5 linked regions of the Homo sapiens genome follow. The protein of the gene in region 1 interacts with the protein of each later gene in a pairwise test. Each region holds a gene or a part of one and is shown in the gene's direction. Other genes may lie near its edges. The genes, in order: SLC38A1, SLC10A6, PTPN11, PMP22 and SCGB1D1.

The links.
Region 2: the proteins of SLC38A1 (region 1) and SLC10A6 interact in binary tests that used the Homo sapiens proteins (3 or more experiments, as listed by UniProt).
Region 3: the proteins of SLC38A1 (region 1) and PTPN11 interact in a two-hybrid assay, tested with the Homo sapiens proteins (one large-scale study listed by BioGRID and IntAct).
Region 4: the proteins of SLC38A1 (region 1) and PMP22 interact in binary tests that used the Homo sapiens proteins (3 or more experiments, as listed by UniProt).
Region 5: the proteins of SLC38A1 (region 1) and SCGB1D1 interact in binary tests that used the Homo sapiens proteins (3 or more experiments, as listed by UniProt).

The regions. Positions count from the first base shown.
Region 1 is NC_000012.12:46,262,541-46,266,065, reverse strand, and holds part of SLC38A1 (sodium-coupled neutral amino acid symporter 1), read left to right. Parts: intron 1-3,525. UniProt on the Homo sapiens protein: Symporter that cotransports short-chain neutral amino acids and sodium ions from the extraccellular to the intracellular side of the cell membrane. The transport is elctrogenic, pH dependent and driven by the Na(+) electrochemical gradient.
Region 2 is NC_000004.12:86,839,376-86,842,900, reverse strand, and holds part of SLC10A6 (sodium-dependent organic anion transporter), read left to right. Parts: intron 1-3,525. UniProt on the Homo sapiens protein: Transports sulfoconjugated steroid hormones from the extracellular compartment into the cytosol in a sodium-dependent manner without hydrolysis.
Region 3 is NC_000012.12:112,449,922-112,453,446, forward strand, and holds part of PTPN11 (tyrosine-protein phosphatase non-receptor type 11), read left to right. Parts: intron 1-396; coding exon 397-591; intron 592-3,273; coding exon 3,274-3,466; intron 3,467-3,525. UniProt on the Homo sapiens protein: Acts downstream of various receptor and cytoplasmic protein tyrosine kinases to participate in the signal transduction from the cell surface to the nucleus. Positively regulates MAPK signal transduction pathway. Dephosphorylates GAB1, ARHGAP35 and EGFR.
Region 4 is NC_000017.11:15,229,279-15,231,802, reverse strand, and holds the end of PMP22 (peripheral myelin protein 22), read left to right. Parts: exon of another isoform or gene 1-722; coding exon 723-886; 3' UTR 887-2,024; downstream 2,025-2,524. UniProt on the Homo sapiens protein: Might be involved in growth regulation, and in myelinization in the peripheral nervous system.
Region 5 is NC_000011.10:62,188,951-62,193,029, forward strand, and holds the start of SCGB1D1 (secretoglobin family 1D member 1 precursor), read left to right. Parts: upstream 1-1,265; 5' UTR 1,266-1,334; coding exon 1,335-1,389; intron 1,390-3,105; coding exon 3,106-3,293; intron 3,294-4,079. UniProt on the Homo sapiens protein: May bind androgens and other steroids, may also bind estramustine, a chemotherapeutic agent used for prostate cancer. May be under transcriptional regulation of steroid hormones.

The DNA.
Region 1 (3,525 bases):
TAAGTTTGAAAATGAGAGTCTTTTTCTTCTCTGCTTCTCCTTCTCGTACTGCCCTTCCCACTTTGAGCAGTGACCAGGCCCTTGAAAATACCCCTCACACTTGTCCTCTTGTCTCCATTTCCACTGCCCAAGTTCAGGTCCCTGTCACCTTACCTAGACTTGGAGACATATGAAACAGATATAGAGGTGCCTTGAACAACCTAGGGGCAGTGGGAGTGGGCGGTGGAGAAAAATGCAAGCACAACATATGGTTAAGAGTGAAACAGCCAGTTACTGAGGTGGAACAGCTTTCCTGTTGGTCTCTCCTCCATATCAAGTTATGCTCCCCTAATTAAATCTCCATTCTTTCATGAGGTTTATATTTCTAAAATTCAGTTCACATTTTGTTAAAGGACCTTGCTTTTAAAAACCTCTGAGGGTTTCCATTGCACACAAATACAGTCTAAATTCCTTAGCCATACACTTAGGACCCTTCACAATCTGCCTTCTCATCTCTTTCCAATTTTTTCTCTTGATATTTTCTTTCTCACAGTTCACCCTATTCCCTCCCTATCACTTTTCTGCTTCAATATCTGTGTGGATTGGATTCCAGTCCAGAATGCCTACTGAAATCCTGTGTACTTGTGATGGCCTATCCCTGATGCCACTTTTCCACCTCTTGGGAGAAGTGTTCACTGATCACCTCACTGGCATTTTCATAAGTATTTGTTTATCCTTCACATTTTGGACTGTTGTTACTCCAGGTGATGGAAGGTGGTGAATAGGGGCTTAGGCTCTGAGTCAAATATAAATATCAGGCCTCAGCTTACTCACCCAGGAATCTTGGGCAAGGTGTTTGGCATCTCTAAGCCTCAGTTTTTTCTTTTGCTAAATGGGAATGATGATGCTGGTGGTAGTGTTGGTGGTACCCACTTTACTGAGTGATGGTAAAGATTTAATGAAGATAATGAATGTGAAGTATTTGGTATAGTGTTAGCATTCCATATGTATTGAATTAAACATATCTACCAGAGGAGGGAGAGAAAGTTGATCAGTAAAGTTCCCTTTACCTCTGAAATTCTGTGACTATGTAATCTTTTAAAAATACTTTTCTGAAAATATATCTTGATGGAAACTACCTGGATCTTTTTAGTCTCTGGGAGAATATACATCTATGAAAGGTGGTGAGGAGGTAGGAGAAGTATGTGCACAGAAGTACTTTGAAGAATGTGTGACAGACTTCGAAAAAGACATCTTGTATGCAAAGGCACACAGAGTAATATAATGGACTGTGGAGACTCAGAAGCCAGAGGTTGGAAGGGAGGATGCCAGATAAAAAGCTACAGATTGGGTACAATGTGTACTACTCAGATGACAAGTGCACTAAAGTCTCAGATTTCATCACTTTCAATTCATTTATATAACCACCAAAAATCACTGATACCCCAAAATCTATTGAAATAAAAAAATTTTAAGTAAAATTAAAAGATTAACTTCAATAACCTAAAAAAAGACACTGACCCTAGATTTAAAATAAGATTTTAAATTTAAAAATATTGTTGTACTTATTTCTGAAAATTGATCACATATTTGTTTTCTAGTGATAACCTTACTAATAACAGAGGAGTTCCCCTAACCATGTTACCTTCCCAATCACTGAATTCCTCTACTATTAGTAAGTAACTCTGTTTCAAGTGAGGTTACAATGTGTCTTTGGCAATAACTAGCTGGGTACCCTTGAGCAACTCATTTCACATTTTTATGCCTCATTTTCTCATCTGTCCAATGCTAATAATAGTATCAGTGCTGCGTACCTCAGAGTTGTGAAGATACAATGAGAGCAGAGCTGAGAAAGTCCTTGAACAAGTTTAAAAAAACTATTCAAGATGATAGTCATCTGGCATTAAGCATGCTGCTAATCTTCAGGGTCAGGTGATGGTTTTAGATTAGTGAGTCTCAGAGCAGACTTCACATTAGACTCATCTAGGGTGTTTTAAAAGCTGTCAGTGCCAAGACTTCAACTCCAGAGATTCAGATTTAGTTGGCCTGGGATGGAGCCCAAATATGGGAGCTTAGAAAATATCAGGGGTGATTTTGATATGCATTGGTTTAGATTTAAAGCAAGGAAAACAAAACAAACATCAGAAATTAAATGAGGACCTCCATATGTTGCTTGACAAAGTCTTAGTCTTAGTAGTGTGAAATTATGAGCTTGACTGACTTTTCCCCCTGATTTTACTAAACCAACCATTTGTTGACATCATGGAGCCACAGCCTCAGGTTACAGTTTATAACCTGAATTTTCCCAGGCATAGACGCCTGTCCAGTGATACAGCCAGAGCCACATGAAGATTTAATGTGTAGATCTCAGTTTCCATCTCTTAGGAATGGCGAAGGTTGGAAAAGAAAGCGACAATGGAAAGGAAAAAGAAAGGGATAGGCTATGGACCAAGGTATAGGAGAAAGAGGCTCTGAGCAGGAGACAGACAGGTCAGAGCACAGAGAAAACACTGTGTTTAATTTATTGAACCGGTTTTGTTTAGGTTGCAAACTGGTGGCTAGAGAGCCAAATTAAGCTTGTGGGCATATTTTATGTGACTTACGCTTTCTTTTAAAATTATTTGAAATTAGTTGCCAACTCTTAAATATCAGAATTTCACTTAGAATTTTGATTTCTGGCATTTATTGAAAAACATAAAAATAAAAAGACCAGGCTCATTCCTGCCACTAGTTGGAGGGAAATAGATGGGACATGTGTTCTCTAGTTCCTTATGCCCAGTCTGCTTTGCCCATTTATCTTACCTACCTGAGCACTAGCTTCTTTTGTTTTAACTTTTATTCTCAATCTGGGGATCTTAACATTGGCTGCACATAAGAATGCTCTCCTCTGGAGAGCGTTTAAAATAACCATGCTTGGATCCTGTCCTATACCAATTAAGTCAGAGACTGTTGTGTGTGTAGTGTCCCCTTATCACTTTTATTTTTTTAAAGCTCCCCAGTTTGTTCCAATGTCCTGTTAGAACTGAGGCCTATTGGCCTACAAAGGCAACTATTCAAGAGATTTGTCTACAAGTCCACCTTCTTATCTTTGGAAGTGATTCATTAAGAAATAGTGTATAGAATCATTAATTCAGAGAACTGGGAGAGGTCTTTGAGAGAGCAGCCATTAATCCAATCTTCTTATTTTAAGGTGAGGAGACAGAGACCCAGAGAGGAGAAAGGAATTGTTCTGAGACTGTAACCATCATCTGGTATTGAATTATATAGTGTCTTTTATTACATTTTCTCTTTTCAAATAAAAGTCTATTTTTAAGATTTCTTTTTATAAATGATCCTCTTTATATGCAGCACTTTGTGATGCTTTAAAGTTCTTATTATTTCTGTTTTTCCTTGAGTATTTTGTTAGGAGTCATAACTTAGCTAGGGCTTAAAAACAAACACACAAAACTGTATCCATCTTTTTTAGTACAATAGCAATCCTTGATCAGAAATATCTTTAGAACAAAAAACATATATGCAAATAAAGAGATTTTTCTCAAGGGCTGA
Region 2 (3,525 bases), on another chromosome or scaffold:
GCGAGACTCCATCTCAAAAAAAAAAAGAAAGAAAGAAAGAAAGAAAGAAAGAAAGAAAGAAAGAAAGAAAGAAAGAAAGAAAGAAAGAAAGAAAGAAAGAAAGAAAGAAAGAAAAGAGGTGTCCATTTATTGATGCAACTCAGGACAGCTCCCACTGTCTTGTCTTTTCTTTTCTTTTCTTTTCTTTTCTTTTTTTTTTTTTTGAGACAGGGTCTTAGACTCTGTCATCAGACTGGAGTGCAGTGGTACAATCATGGCTCACTGAAGTCTTGGCCTTCTGGGGTCAAGTGATCCTCTCACCTCAGCCTTCTGAGCAGCGCAGCTGGGACTATAGGCATGCGCCATCATACCCAGCTAATTTTTTATTTTTTATTACAGAGATGAGGTCTCACTATGTTGCCCAGGCTGGTCTTGAACTCCTGGGCTCAAGCAATCCTCCCACCTAGGGTTTCCAAAGTGCTGGGATTACAGGTGTGGGCCACTTACGCCTGGCCTCCCACTATCTTTGTTTGAGAACTTTTGATATATACAAGAGGTCCATTCTTCCGTAAGGATGTATTTATGTCCTCAGCTGCAGACAAAGGATTCTGACCACTGGTGGTGTTGGAGCCTGTGGAGCTCAGTGGCCAACTTTGACCTTTGAACTTTAAAGAAGTTCTTAGTCCTTCAGTAGAGAACCTGGAAATAGAACTTCAAATTGTTCAGGTCTATCTGACATGTCTTGGTGGAAAACTGAAGGTCCTTTGCATTTAAGGCTTTGGAGACAGAACGGAGACTGAATTCATGAGACTTCATGCAAGCTTCCATGTCTCTATGTACTTTAATTTCCTTATCTATACAATGAAAATAATACTCACACATAGAGTTATTATGTAGATGAAAAGAGAAAATGTATATAAAAGCATGAGACATAACACCTAGCACATAGTGCTCAATAAATACTCATTATTATTGGAAGGCAGCAGACAAGGGTAACATTTATATTGAGGGATGGAAAATCGGGCCTTACGCTCTATTCTAGGGTCAAATCTGTTGGTATGATCTTATAGCTCACTCCGTGTCCATCTGGTTAGCTGGATAATTTTTTATTTCTTTCAGTCGGAAAGCAAGTGTATACTTTCATAGTTTTGAGGGTCAGAGTTCCTGATTTTATGGGATTTTTGAAATTAAAACAATTTATAATAACTTAATCTCCAATTGCAAAATGTTATTGACACTGCATTTTAATGTAATGTGTATATATGTAATTTCCCTGCTTTAAGGGAGGGTTCAAGACTGACCTGTTTGTCTAGACTTGCTGAATATGTCTCATTATTTTCTGTAATAGTTTGGAGATGATGATGCTATTCTTCTCAATGCAAGTGGAATCTTGTTATACTGAAGTTAGATTTTGCCAAAAATTTTCCTATACATGAAAAGTCAAGAGACTTACTTAGCCACATCCTCTGTTTATGCTACATTGGAATTTCATGGCTAAAAATACAAGGCGTGACTTTCCACTGTACTCACAGGCATTCACTGTGTGCTTTTCCACCTTTGCTGGTATTTGTAACAGTTGGCAGAGCACCAGGATAACCTCTTGCCATCCTTGACCAATATCATGATCACCATGGGCTTGAAAATTGTATAAACATGGAAGCAATCACATAGGTAATCAAGGATATAGAATCAGTCGGATATAAATCTCACTTTGCTTCCCATAATCATGAGTCTTACCTTTCTGCTGTTTGAGCCAAAGCCATTCAGTAGAGAAATGTTGTGCTGGTTCTCCAGAAGTTCAAGAGTAAAGTGATATAATATGGAATTCCATTCAGGACTTAGTAATATGGAGAGTCAAGGAATGTAGCACTATCATAGACTAAGAATTTGGAAAAAACTTTCTAAACAGCCTCTTTGTGGATACAGAGGTTTGAGAGCTGTGGCAAACTGCTTTTTTTCTTTTAAATTGCCTACTAGTCAGGAAGAAATCTTTGCTTAAAGTAAGCATTCTTAATAGGATAAAATAATTTTGGGTTTCATATGGAATAAAATATAAGCAAGAACTGCTAAGACAAGTTTGAAAAGGGAAATTTATGTGGAGGTATTTGCCCTACCATATATGAGAACACTGTAATTAGTCTAGTATTTGTTCAGGAAAAAAGAAAGTTATTTATCAATGAGCTAGAAGAGAATTTCCAGAAAATATTTTGTGTACACTTGGGCATTTAATAAATGATAAAGGTGACACTTCAGTATAGTGGAAAATGGTTTATTTTAGTAGATTATATTGACACACTTGCATCTCAATATATTAATAGAAAAAATGGATTAGTCTCATACCTGTTACCATGCAAAATATAAATTTTAAGTCAGTTGAAAATATAAGCATAAAAGTAAAAAGTAGAAGACAATATTTGAATGCCCTCGGATCAGGGTAGGTCTTTAAGATAAGAAACTCAGAAGCCATTAAAAAAACAGCTCTGACTATATAAATGTTAATTATGGCAAGTCATAAGCAAAGTCAAAGATATACACCATGCTTGGAAAAAATACTTGTATTATTCATGGTAATATGAGCCCTAATTTTAAAAGAACTCCTACAAGTTGAGAAGAAGTCTGACAAGCAAGATTGTTTAGAGAGGAGGACACAGAAGAAGCCACTTGACATGAAAGAAAGCACAACCTGATAGAATCCAGAGTGTCGGCTGGGTGCAGTGGCTCACGCCTGTAATCCCAACACTTTGGGAGGCCAAGGTGGGTGGATCACCTGAGGTCCGGAGTTCGAGACCAGCTTGGCCAACATGGTAAAACCCATCTCTACTAAAAATTAAAAAAAAAAAAAAAATTAGCCTGGTGTGGTGGCGGGTACCTGTAATCCCACCTATTCCAGAGGCTGGGGCAGAGAGAATTGCTTGAACCTGGGAGGCGGAGCTTGCAGTGAGTCAAGATCAGGCCACTGCACTCCAGACTGGGTGACAGAGTGAGCTCCAGCTAAAAAAAAAAAATAAAAAAAAAAAATAAGAGTGTAACAAGAGTGAGATCAATTTTTCAATGCTGGCATGACAATTAGAAGGGACTGATCACATCCGGAGTAGGCAAGATTGTGAAATGTAGCAATCTTTTTGGAAAGTAGTCTGAAAGTATATATTAAAACAAAAAACACAGACTTTTACATAGCAATTCCACCTTGGGAATTCACAGAAAGAAAAGAATCATTTCAAGTGAAGTATGTATGAGAGTGTTTATTATAACATTATTTATAATGGCAAAAAACTAAAAGCAACTGACCTATGGTTAATGAAGTGATTGAAGAAATTATGGCATATTTAGATTATGGCATATTTCGCAGTTCTTTAAAAGAATAAGTTTAAATGTATTGGTCTGAGAGGATGTCTGTGATAGATGAAGTGGGAAAAAAAGCAAACAAGTTGCAGAGTAAGGTATATTATAAGGTTCCTTTTTTTATTTTTAGAGACAGGGCCTCCTTCTGTCCCCAAAGCTGGAGTGTTGTGGTGTGAGCATAGCTCACTGCAGCCTCAAACTCCT
Region 3 (3,525 bases), about 66 Mb from region 1:
GAGCGTGGTGGCGCATTCCTGTAATCCCAGCTTCTTGGGAGGCTGAGGTAGGAGAATCACTTGAACCTGGATTTATAATGTATGTAAATCCACCGCGAAGGTTGCGGTGAACCGAGATCACGTCATTGCACTCCAGCCTGGGCAATAAGAGCGAAACTCCATCTCAAAAAAAAAAAAAAAAGATATGCAAGGTAAAGATACTAATAAAGACCTTTGTGTTGAGTTGGTTGACATGTGGTTATTTCACCCATCGTATTTCTTATAGGGAATAGGTAAATTCGTTCCTTGGGTTTCTTTCAACACTTAGGTAAAATCCGACGTGGAAGATGAGATCTGATTTTACTGGTGTAACTCTTTATTTGTCCCCTTGCCTCCCTTTCCAATGGACTATTTTAGAAGAAATGGAGCTGTCACCCACATCAAGATTCAGAACACTGGTGATTACTATGACCTGTATGGAGGGGAGAAATTTGCCACTTTGGCTGAGTTGGTCCAGTATTACATGGAACATCACGGGCAATTAAAAGAGAAGAATGGAGATGTCATTGAGCTTAAATATCCTCTGAACTGTGCAGATCCTACCTCTGAAAGGTCAGTAACATTTTAGTGACCACAAAGTCTGCTGCTCCCTTGTGCCCTGAGTGTCAGAAATGCATGACGGTCTGTGTATGACTCTCTGACTCCAAAGGCTTGTGACTGTTTTTTGAGCTGTAATCTTTAAAGAATTACTAAAGTGAGACTAATAGCATCAAATTATTTTCAGAGTACCTTTTTCCTGCAAAAGTTTTAATCAGTGTTACTTACACTCATCCTATAGGGGTTGCATACCATTCCTGCATATACTTGGTACGTGTATTAGTTTTAAGACTTATTGAACTTCAGCAGATAATCTTTGAGAGTTATTAGAGGAAAACAAATGATAATGGAGACACCAAAATAGCAGCAGTTTTCTATGGTGGCTCTCGACCAGTTATTCAGCAATGTCACCAACAGATGTCAGTTTAAGCTCAGAAGTGGAAAAGCAGAGAGCTCAGAGGGTCAGCTTTTTCATCAGTTCTTTTAATGTTATCACCACAATTATGTGAGAATGACCTTGCTTAGAGAAAATTATGTTATTTTCGAGATCTTTCCCCCTGTGTTGGAACTAGGCTGATGAAAGCATGGGCTTGACTTATTTATTGATTGTATTCGTTTTGTACATTCCCAATCTCCTCTCTGACTTGGTGCAAATTCAGGATCTCTTAGTTAGTTTGTATATTTTGTGTCTTCAGGTATGATTTTTTCAGCTTATACCTTTATGTCAGTGCTATTATGTGCTGATAATTTGTTTCTCTAGCTACCACCGTAGCTTCAGGCAAAAGGCTGTCAGCCAACTCTGTACAGTTTATTTCTAAATTTTACTGTTTTCAGTTGAGTATGGATGAAGAATAACTCAAAGTTTATTCTTTTGATGATGAGCCCTTAACACCACCTGCCATGATAGTACTTGCTTTCTGACCAAGATCCTGAGGGAAAAAGCCACTTTATTATTAGAACTATGTTAAGATGCTTCCCAAAAAACATGGAGCAGTATTGTCTCAAAGTCTGTCCTTGGATGGCTTTGGATGCCTACATCAGGACTGTCTGATGTGCTGGTTAAAATGCAGATTCCTGGGCCTCATTCAGACTTACATGTATTGATATTGCTGGTTGTGGAGCCTGGGAATTCATATTTTTAGCAAAATCCCTCATTTTTACTCCAAGTCTTATGTGCATTATACAGTTTGAGATGATCACCCAGGATATAGTCCAAAGACACTGGAGGCTGTTGAAGTATAGGTTGTATATATGGAAAAGGTTGGAATGTTTGAATTAATTTATAATGAAGATCCTTTTTAATTGAGTGTTCACATGCCAAGGCAAGGACAAACATTCAAAATGATTTTCTGTCTCTGTTACAACTTTTTCTTTCTTTTTTTTAATTTATTTATTTGAGATGGAGTCTCACTCTGTCACCCAGGCTGGAGTCAAGTGACGCGATCTCGGCTCACTACAACCTCCGCCTCCCAGATTCAAGTAATTCTCTTGCCTCAGCCTCCCGAGTAGCTGGGACTACAGGCATGTGCCACCATGCCCAGTTAATTTTTGTATTTTTAGTAGAGACAGGGTTTTGTCATGTTTGCCAGGCTGGTCTCAAACTCCTGAACTCAGGTGATCCGCCCACCTTGACCTCTCAAAGTGCTGGGATTATAGGCGTGAGCCACCGTGCCTGTCTCTATTACAACTTTTTATTACAACTTCTTTATTTTGACTTTATTTTTACAAATTATTTATTTATTTTTTTTGAGATGGAGTTTCGCTCGTCACCCAGGCTGGAGTGCAATGGTGCGATCTCAGCTCACTGCAACCTCCGCCTCCCAGGTTCAAGTGATTCTCCTGCCTCAGCCTCCTGAGTAGCTGGGATTACAGGCACTTGCCACCACACCCGGCCAATTTTGTATTTTTAGCAGAGACAGGGTTTCACCATGTTGGTCAGGCTGGTCTCGAATTCTTGACCTCAGGTGATCCACCTGCCTCGGCCTCCCAAAGTGTTGGGATTACAGGCATGAGCCACCACGTCCGGCCGACTTTTATTTTTTTTTCTTGAGACAGGGTCTTGCTCTGTCACCCAAGCTGGAGTGCGGTGGCATGATCATAGCGCACTGCAGCCTCGACCTCCTGGACTCAAGTGATCCTCCTGCCTCGGCCTTGTGTATAGCTGGGATTACAGGCAGTTGCCACCATGCCAGGCTAATTTTTAATTGTTTTGTGAAGATGGGGATTTCACTGTGTTGCCCAGACTGGTCTTGAACTCCTGGCCTCAAGTGATCTTCCTGCCTTGGCCTTCCAAAGTGTTGGGATTACAGGCATAAGCCACTATGCATGGCCTGTAACTTCTTTAAATGGCTATAATTAAACAGTTGGTCCTTTTAAGATTGGGCAATGGACGAATGGCAAATTGCATTTTTAAAAGAGGAGGGATTTAAAAAAAAACAGGAAAGATTGGGGCATTTGTCTCTAAAGGACTGTGGACTCATTTAAGAAGTTTAGTGGTCATTCTTACCATCTTTGTGGTTTTTCCTGCCTGCATGGGATGCAGATTTTCTGTCTCAGGTGGGATTGATCAATCCCTTGGAGGAATGTGTCTACTTTTTAATTGTGTTTAGGAGAGCTGACTGTATACAGTAGTTTTGTGAAAGAACAACATGAACCCATAGTAGAGCTAAATTCTTTTTTATTTTTTAAAAACTTTAGGTGGTTTCATGGACATCTCTCTGGGAAAGAAGCAGAGAAATTATTAACTGAAAAAGGAAAACATGGTAGTTTTCTTGTACGAGAGAGCCAGAGCCACCCTGGAGATTTTGTTCTTTCTGTGCGCACTGGTGATGACAAAGGGGAGAGCAATGACGGCAAGTCTAAAGTGACCCATGTTATGATTCGCTGTCAGGTAAATCTCCAGTTGAAAAATGGGTCTGGCAAGATGTTACCTTTGGGTGATTTTTCTGC
Region 4 (2,524 bases), on another chromosome or scaffold:
CCTTCTTTGGGCTTCAAATGCAACCTTGGGGCACCCAGGGAAATGGAGCTTGCCTTTGATCATCTTCCCCCTCTGCAGCGTGGCTTCCCAGTCATACTGTCGGCTGCATCCTTATTCCTCACTTTCTTTTTCCCTCTCCACACATTTCTTTGTCTGTTTGGCAGTGCCCATAGGCATTGCTTGCTTCACCTGGTATGTGGCAACTCTGTTAGGGGGACCATAGGCCCCTGTGGTCTGCATGGAGCTTAATCCTTTTACCATGGCGTGACTCCAATAATGGTAAAATGTCACTTCACTTCCATTGGCTTTAGGTAATGCCACCACTCACTTGTAGAGTGGCATATAGATTTCCAGGGGTTTCCATACCCAACCACCCTTGGAAAGAGACAGGTAGGTTTTTCTTGCAGCCTGAATGCCTGCTGGCCATGTAGTGTGGCCTGGGAATTGGTGACAGTGAAAGAAAGAGAAATAGGGCAGAAAATGTAAAGAAAACCCTCAGGTATTAAGGCCTAGGTGGCCAAGATTGGAAATAGAGAGCAAGTTGTTTTCCTTGTTCCCATATTTTTGTGCTACCTCCTTTCAATTCTGGACCTGGAAGCAGATTTCCTTCCAGAGGTAGAAATGTTCTTCCTACCCAGCAATTGTCAGCATCCGGGGTGGCGGAGAGGGGGCCGCTCTGCCATGGACTCTCCGTCACCCAGCTTGTCCCTCTCCTTCCCCAGGTCTGTGCGTGATGAGTGCTGCGGCCATCTACACGGTGAGGCACCCGGAGTGGCATCTCAACTCGGATTACTCCTACGGTTTCGCCTACATCCTGGCCTGGGTGGCCTTCCCCCTGGCCCTTCTCAGCGGTGTCATCTATGTGATCTTGCGGAAACGCGAATGAGGCGCCCAGACGGTCTGTCTGAGGCTCTGAGCGTACATAGGGAAGGGAGGAAGGGAAAACAGAAAGCAGACAAAGAAAAAAGAGCTAGCCCAAAATCCCAAACTCAAACCAAACCAAACAGAAAGCAGTGGAGGTGGGGGTTGCTGTTGATTGAAGATGTATATAATATCTCCGGTTTATAAAACCTATTTATAACACTTTTTACATATATGTACATAGTATTGTTTGCTTTTTATGTTGACCATCAGCCTCGTGTTGAGCCTTAAAGAAGTAGCTAAGGAACTTTACATCCTAACAGTATAATCCAGCTCAGTATTTTTGTTTTGTTTTTTGTTTGTTTGTTTTGTTTTACCCAGAAATAAGATAACTCCATCTCGCCCCTTCCCTTTCATCTGAAAGAAGATACCTCCCTCCCAGTCCACCTCATTTAGAAAACCAAAGTGTGGGTAGAAACCCCAAATGTCCAAAAGCCCTTTTCTGGTGGGTGACCCAGTGCATCCAACAGAAACAGCCGCTGCCCGAACCTCTGTGTGAAGCTTTACGCGCACACGGACAAAATGCCCAAACTGGAGCCCTTGCAAAAACACGGCTTGTGGCATTGGCATACTTGCCCTTACAGGTGGAGTATCTTCGTCACACATCTAAATGAGAAATCAGTGACAACAAGTCTTTGAAATGGTGCTATGGATTTACCATTCCTTATTATCACTAATCATCTAAACAACTCACTGGAAATCCAATTAACAATTTTACAACATAAGATAGAATGGAGACCTGAATAATTCTGTGTAATATAAATGGTTTATAACTGCTTTTGTACCTAGCTAGGCTGCTATTATTACTATAATGAGTAAATCATAAAGCCTTCATCACTCCCACATTTTTCTTACGGTCGGAGCATCAGAACAAGCGTCTAGACTCCTTGGGACCGTGAGTTCCTAGAGCTTGGCTGGGTCTAGGCTGTTCTGTGCCTCCAAGGACTGTCTGGCAATGACTTGTATTGGCCACCAACTGTAGATGTATATATGGTGCCCTTCTGATGCTAAGACTCCAGACCTTTTGTTTTTGCTTTGCATTTTCTGATTTTATACCAACTGTGTGGACTAAGATGCATTAAAATAAACATCAGAGTAACTCACTGGTCTCTCTTGAGTTTTTGTGGGAACTTGGGTGTGGGTACAAGGTGCCTGTTGGAGCAGGATGAAGAGCTTCAGTGGAAAGCAAAGTTGAGCTGGAGATTTGGGTTACAAGATGGTGCTAAGGCACCAAAATCATAGCTGTTTTACAAGCTACAGGGAGCACATGATGCCTTCATGATGTCTGTGCAAAGGTTTGCTAATTGGAGACAGTTGGGAATTGCAGCTGAAATGGAGGCTGTAAATGGACTGGAAGGCACTTGAGTATTCATTTAGTTCAACCCTCTCTGGTGCTCTGTTGTTTGATGACCCACATGGAAAACATGGAGGCATGTCATGAGCTGCCCTGATATACTGGGAATGTTGGCAGAAGCATCTCAGATCCCTCACCCTGAGGTATGATATGGTGAAAGGTCTGAATGATGGTGACTTGAGGCCACACTTGCAGATAAAACATTGGTTGGCACCAACTAAGCTCCTAATGCCATCCTGAAGGAGAGAA
Region 5 (4,079 bases), on another chromosome or scaffold:
TCAGTACTGCTGCCCATCAGACCCACCAGAGCAGTTTAAACAGAAGAGGACCTCGCCCTAGAACTACTGAATCAAAATCCCCAGAAAGGGAAGCAGCCTGCGGGGAGTCAGTATAGTTTAAGAGCCCCAAGTGATTTGATTGCAGAGCAGAGAATGGAAAGCTCTGGCCTGGGCTGTGACTGTTCTCAAATGTGTGTTCACTTAAGAGCCAAATTTCTGGTGATTTCCTACTCACCAAATGATGGCACTGCAGTGGAAGGGCAGAAGGGTGTCTATTGCTTTTGCTGGGGATGGCCTTCGCTTTCCATCAACAATGAGATGACCCAGGCAGCAGAGCTGGGTTAGAAGTGGAAAACTTGAGCCCAGAGGTTAGAGGGAAGTGACCACCCACCCTGTTCATCCATCTCTTCCTTTCCATTATCGTCCCTGCCTAGAAGCGAAGACCAGTATTTCTGATGCCTGTTTGCCTCCAGACACCCCAGCAGCTCCTTGGGTAAAAAAAGTTGGGCAATTTAATCATCCCATCAGCCCTATGAGGAGATATGGGTGGCTAGAGGTCACTGGAGGCTTGCTTTTAGTAGACAGAAAATTTGAACCTGTGCTATGTTGACAACTCCACCCATAAATAAAGACACAGATCTTGGAGTGAGACAGAGTAGAGGACAGGGGGAGTGGTTGTTTTCCCCAAGGAAATCCTCCAAAGGTGGGGTGTATGCAGCTATGTTTTAGGTACCTATGTGGTGAAGATGGTGGGGATGGAAGGGGCTGAGTGGGAGGATAGGTCTGGTTCAGACTTGATCTATGTGCAGCTGAAACACGTGTGGCTGATTGTCAGACATGCAGTGGAGGTCAAAGTGGGGTCTCTTCTGTGCCTGCTCTCCTATAACCAAACCACAGCCCCTAGCTTCCTGCACCCCCGGTTTCTGTCCTCCTGAAATGAGAACTCACATTTGCCCTTGCACTGACATAAAGAACAGAGAGATAATCCTCAAAAGCCCAAAAGCAAACTGAGGTTCCAGGGAACATTGCCAGAGGCACCTGGACACTCACCTGGAGCACAGAGCAGAGTTTCTGCAGGGCTGCCCTCCCGTGCTCCGCCCCACTCAGGATGCAGGGAGGTGTGGGGATGTGACACTGATGGATGGCAGCAGCCCTGGCTAGGAAGGGAGGGCTGGAAGCCAGGCCTCATCACCTGCCAGATGCCCATGTGGGCAGGACCAGCCAGGCTCCCTAGGTACAAATAGCCCTGGGCTCCACGGCTCCACAGGCTCCCGGGGCTGAGTCTAAATCACTCATCATTGGTTAAAGCCGAGCTCACAGCAGAATAAGCCACCATGAGGCTGTCGGTGTGTCTCCTGCTGCTCACGCTGGCCCTTTGCTGCTACCGGGGTGAGTACATCAGTCATGAGTCCAGCACCAGCCCTTGGGACACACCCTTCTCTGAGCACGAGGTCACCTATTAAGGTTAAGGTTGGGGTCTGGAACAAACCAAAATTCCAAACCTTATCCTGTGCTTGTTGAAGGAACTGCTCATAAAGCTCGGGCCTCATTTCATCAAATCCCCAGTACCTAGGAAGTTTTGCAGAAAATCAATGCAGGCGAACGTTAGGAATTCTGCCTGAGCTTCACTCTTGGATGGGATCTGTGTCAGATGATGTAATGTGAGGTCTGGGGTGACTCTGGGCTCAGCCACTTCTCAGCCCTTTCACCGTGGGCAAGATGCTCACCCTCCCCGCGCCTCCTCCTATCTCTGGTGCTTAGAGCTTCTTCCGGGAGTGGCAATGGGAATGGAGTGGGATTATTGTGCCAAGGGTCTAGCTGTGGATGTGAAGCCAATCACTGTACTGTCAGACATTCTCGTCCCCAGACCTTTAGGTGCCAATTGAGCTCACAGCTTCTTACATTGTAAATTCAGACTCATAAAATGTTACATCTCGAAGGATCCTTGGAGAACTCTCAGTCCAAGAAGAGATGGTGCTTTCTGATTCTCTCAATAAGAAGCCTGCAAATGAATTCTTAGAATAAGCAGCACTCAATATATCTTCTAGGGGTCCTACCGTAATGGTGGTAGAAATACTACAATGGTTAGCCTCAGAACTTCTATTTTTCTAAAATTAATTCTGGCTGATTTTTCCCCAGTTCATTTGGGTACTTTCCTTTCCCCTGTCAGGACCGATCCAGACTCTGATTTTTCTCTTTCCTCTTCTTTTCTGAACCTCTCCCTGTTTCCCTGTGACACCCCGATCCTACCCTCTCCAAATTCTCCCCACAGTTTGAAGTCGGGTAGTCAGGGGTCATGTTGAGCATGGTGGGGCGCTTTCTGGATGCATGGTGTTTGCAAAAGACTTAGGTGAATGGAGATTCCAGACCAAGCAAAATGATTACTCCAGGTCTTTCCAAAATTCCCAGTGGGAGCAGGAATGAGCCTCAGTTCCCTCCTCTCATCCTCTCCAAATATTCTAGATGCTGCTGCAGAATATGGGCCAAGTACAATTTCCTGTATAAGCTTCTAATGTGTGTTAAAACTGATTCACATTATTTTATTTTGTTTTAATTTGTTTACCTTTTAGCTCTGTCTGTATTGAATCACATAAGCCTAAATTCTACAACTTGTTCTCAAAACATCACCTTCAACATTTCAATAATTTTAACTTCTTCTGTTCCAGATTTACTCATTTCTCTAATTTCTGATAGGATTCTGACTCTACCATTCCACTTCAAAATTTGATTACTCAAAGCCTCCTCTTCACCAATGTCCAAGACTAATAAAGTGTCACTTAACTGGCATAGAAAAGTGATTATTTTCAAATCTAGAAAAGAGAACGTTGGCCATCCATCCAGAGAAGCTTTGGAAAGTAATGAGTGTGCTTTAAAAAAAAAACAAAGACTGAATGAGTGATCAGGAAGTTGGTTCTCCAGTTCTAGCTCTACCCTTTGCTGTGTGACCTCAAGGAAGTCACAACCTCCTGGGTCTGACATTGTCATTGGCATAGTTATTGAATAGAAGCCTAAAACCCTGGGGTTCCTGTCTGGTCTGACATCAGGGAGGCATGGGAGAAACACTGATTTCCTTACACAAATTATATTTTTATTCTTTTGCTCCAGCAAATGCAGTGGTCTGCCAAGCTCTTGGTTCTGAAATCACAGGCTTCTTATTAGCTGGAAAACCTGTGTTCAAGTTCCAACTTGCCAAATTTAAGGCACCTCTGGAAGCTGTTGCAGCCAAGATGGAAGTGAAGAAATGCGTGGATACGATGGCCTATGAGAAAAGAGTGCTAATTACAAAAACATTGGTAATTTCTGTCTCTTTCATGTGTCCAGGCTTCTGGTCAGCGGCACAGTGTGAAGTGAGGTCAGCTTGCTTGCTGCTCTGTGAGGGACACAGGTGGTGGGGCACCTGCCTTACTGGTCACCGCTTGAGAAGGTCACCTGGGACCACAGGGTGGGTGCTACCATTTCACCTGCAGAATTCAACTCAGCTGCACACAGCCTCCTGCATGTTCCTCCTTCTCAGGTCACCTACCTGGATGCCGTGTCCCCAGAGTGTGCTGAGGACATGGGGAGTGAGCCTGGGTCCAGGCAGGGGTGGTGAAGGGCCAAGCACAACTGTCTCTCCACCTGGGGACTTTCCTGAGGCCAAGTGGACCTCACACAGTCACTGTGGAATGTACTGGGGAGTGTGGGAGCCTTGAACAGGGAGAAGAAGGCAGGGAGGGACCTAGAGCAGGGGCTCCTGCAGATGCTGCGCTGGAGGGCTGGACTTCTCTGCAGCTTCTGCAGAACCAGGAAGGAGCCCCTCCCAGCTCCTCAGACTCCACGCTCCCCTCCTCACCCACGATGCTCTCCTGACCACGGCCAGTGGGCCAAGACCCTCGCTACTCTACCTCCTGCAGTGCCATGGAAGCGGGATGTTCTCACTCTGTCTTTCTCAAGAAATCAGAGGTTTTCCAGGGGCCTCTCAGCCTGGCTGCCTCTGGGTTGCTGTCCTGAGGTTTAGCTGCAAATGCTCATGGAAGCTGCAGGCTCAGGATTGAGGTGCTCAGGCCCTGAGGCAGAATTCCCACATGGGGAGGCTGGAG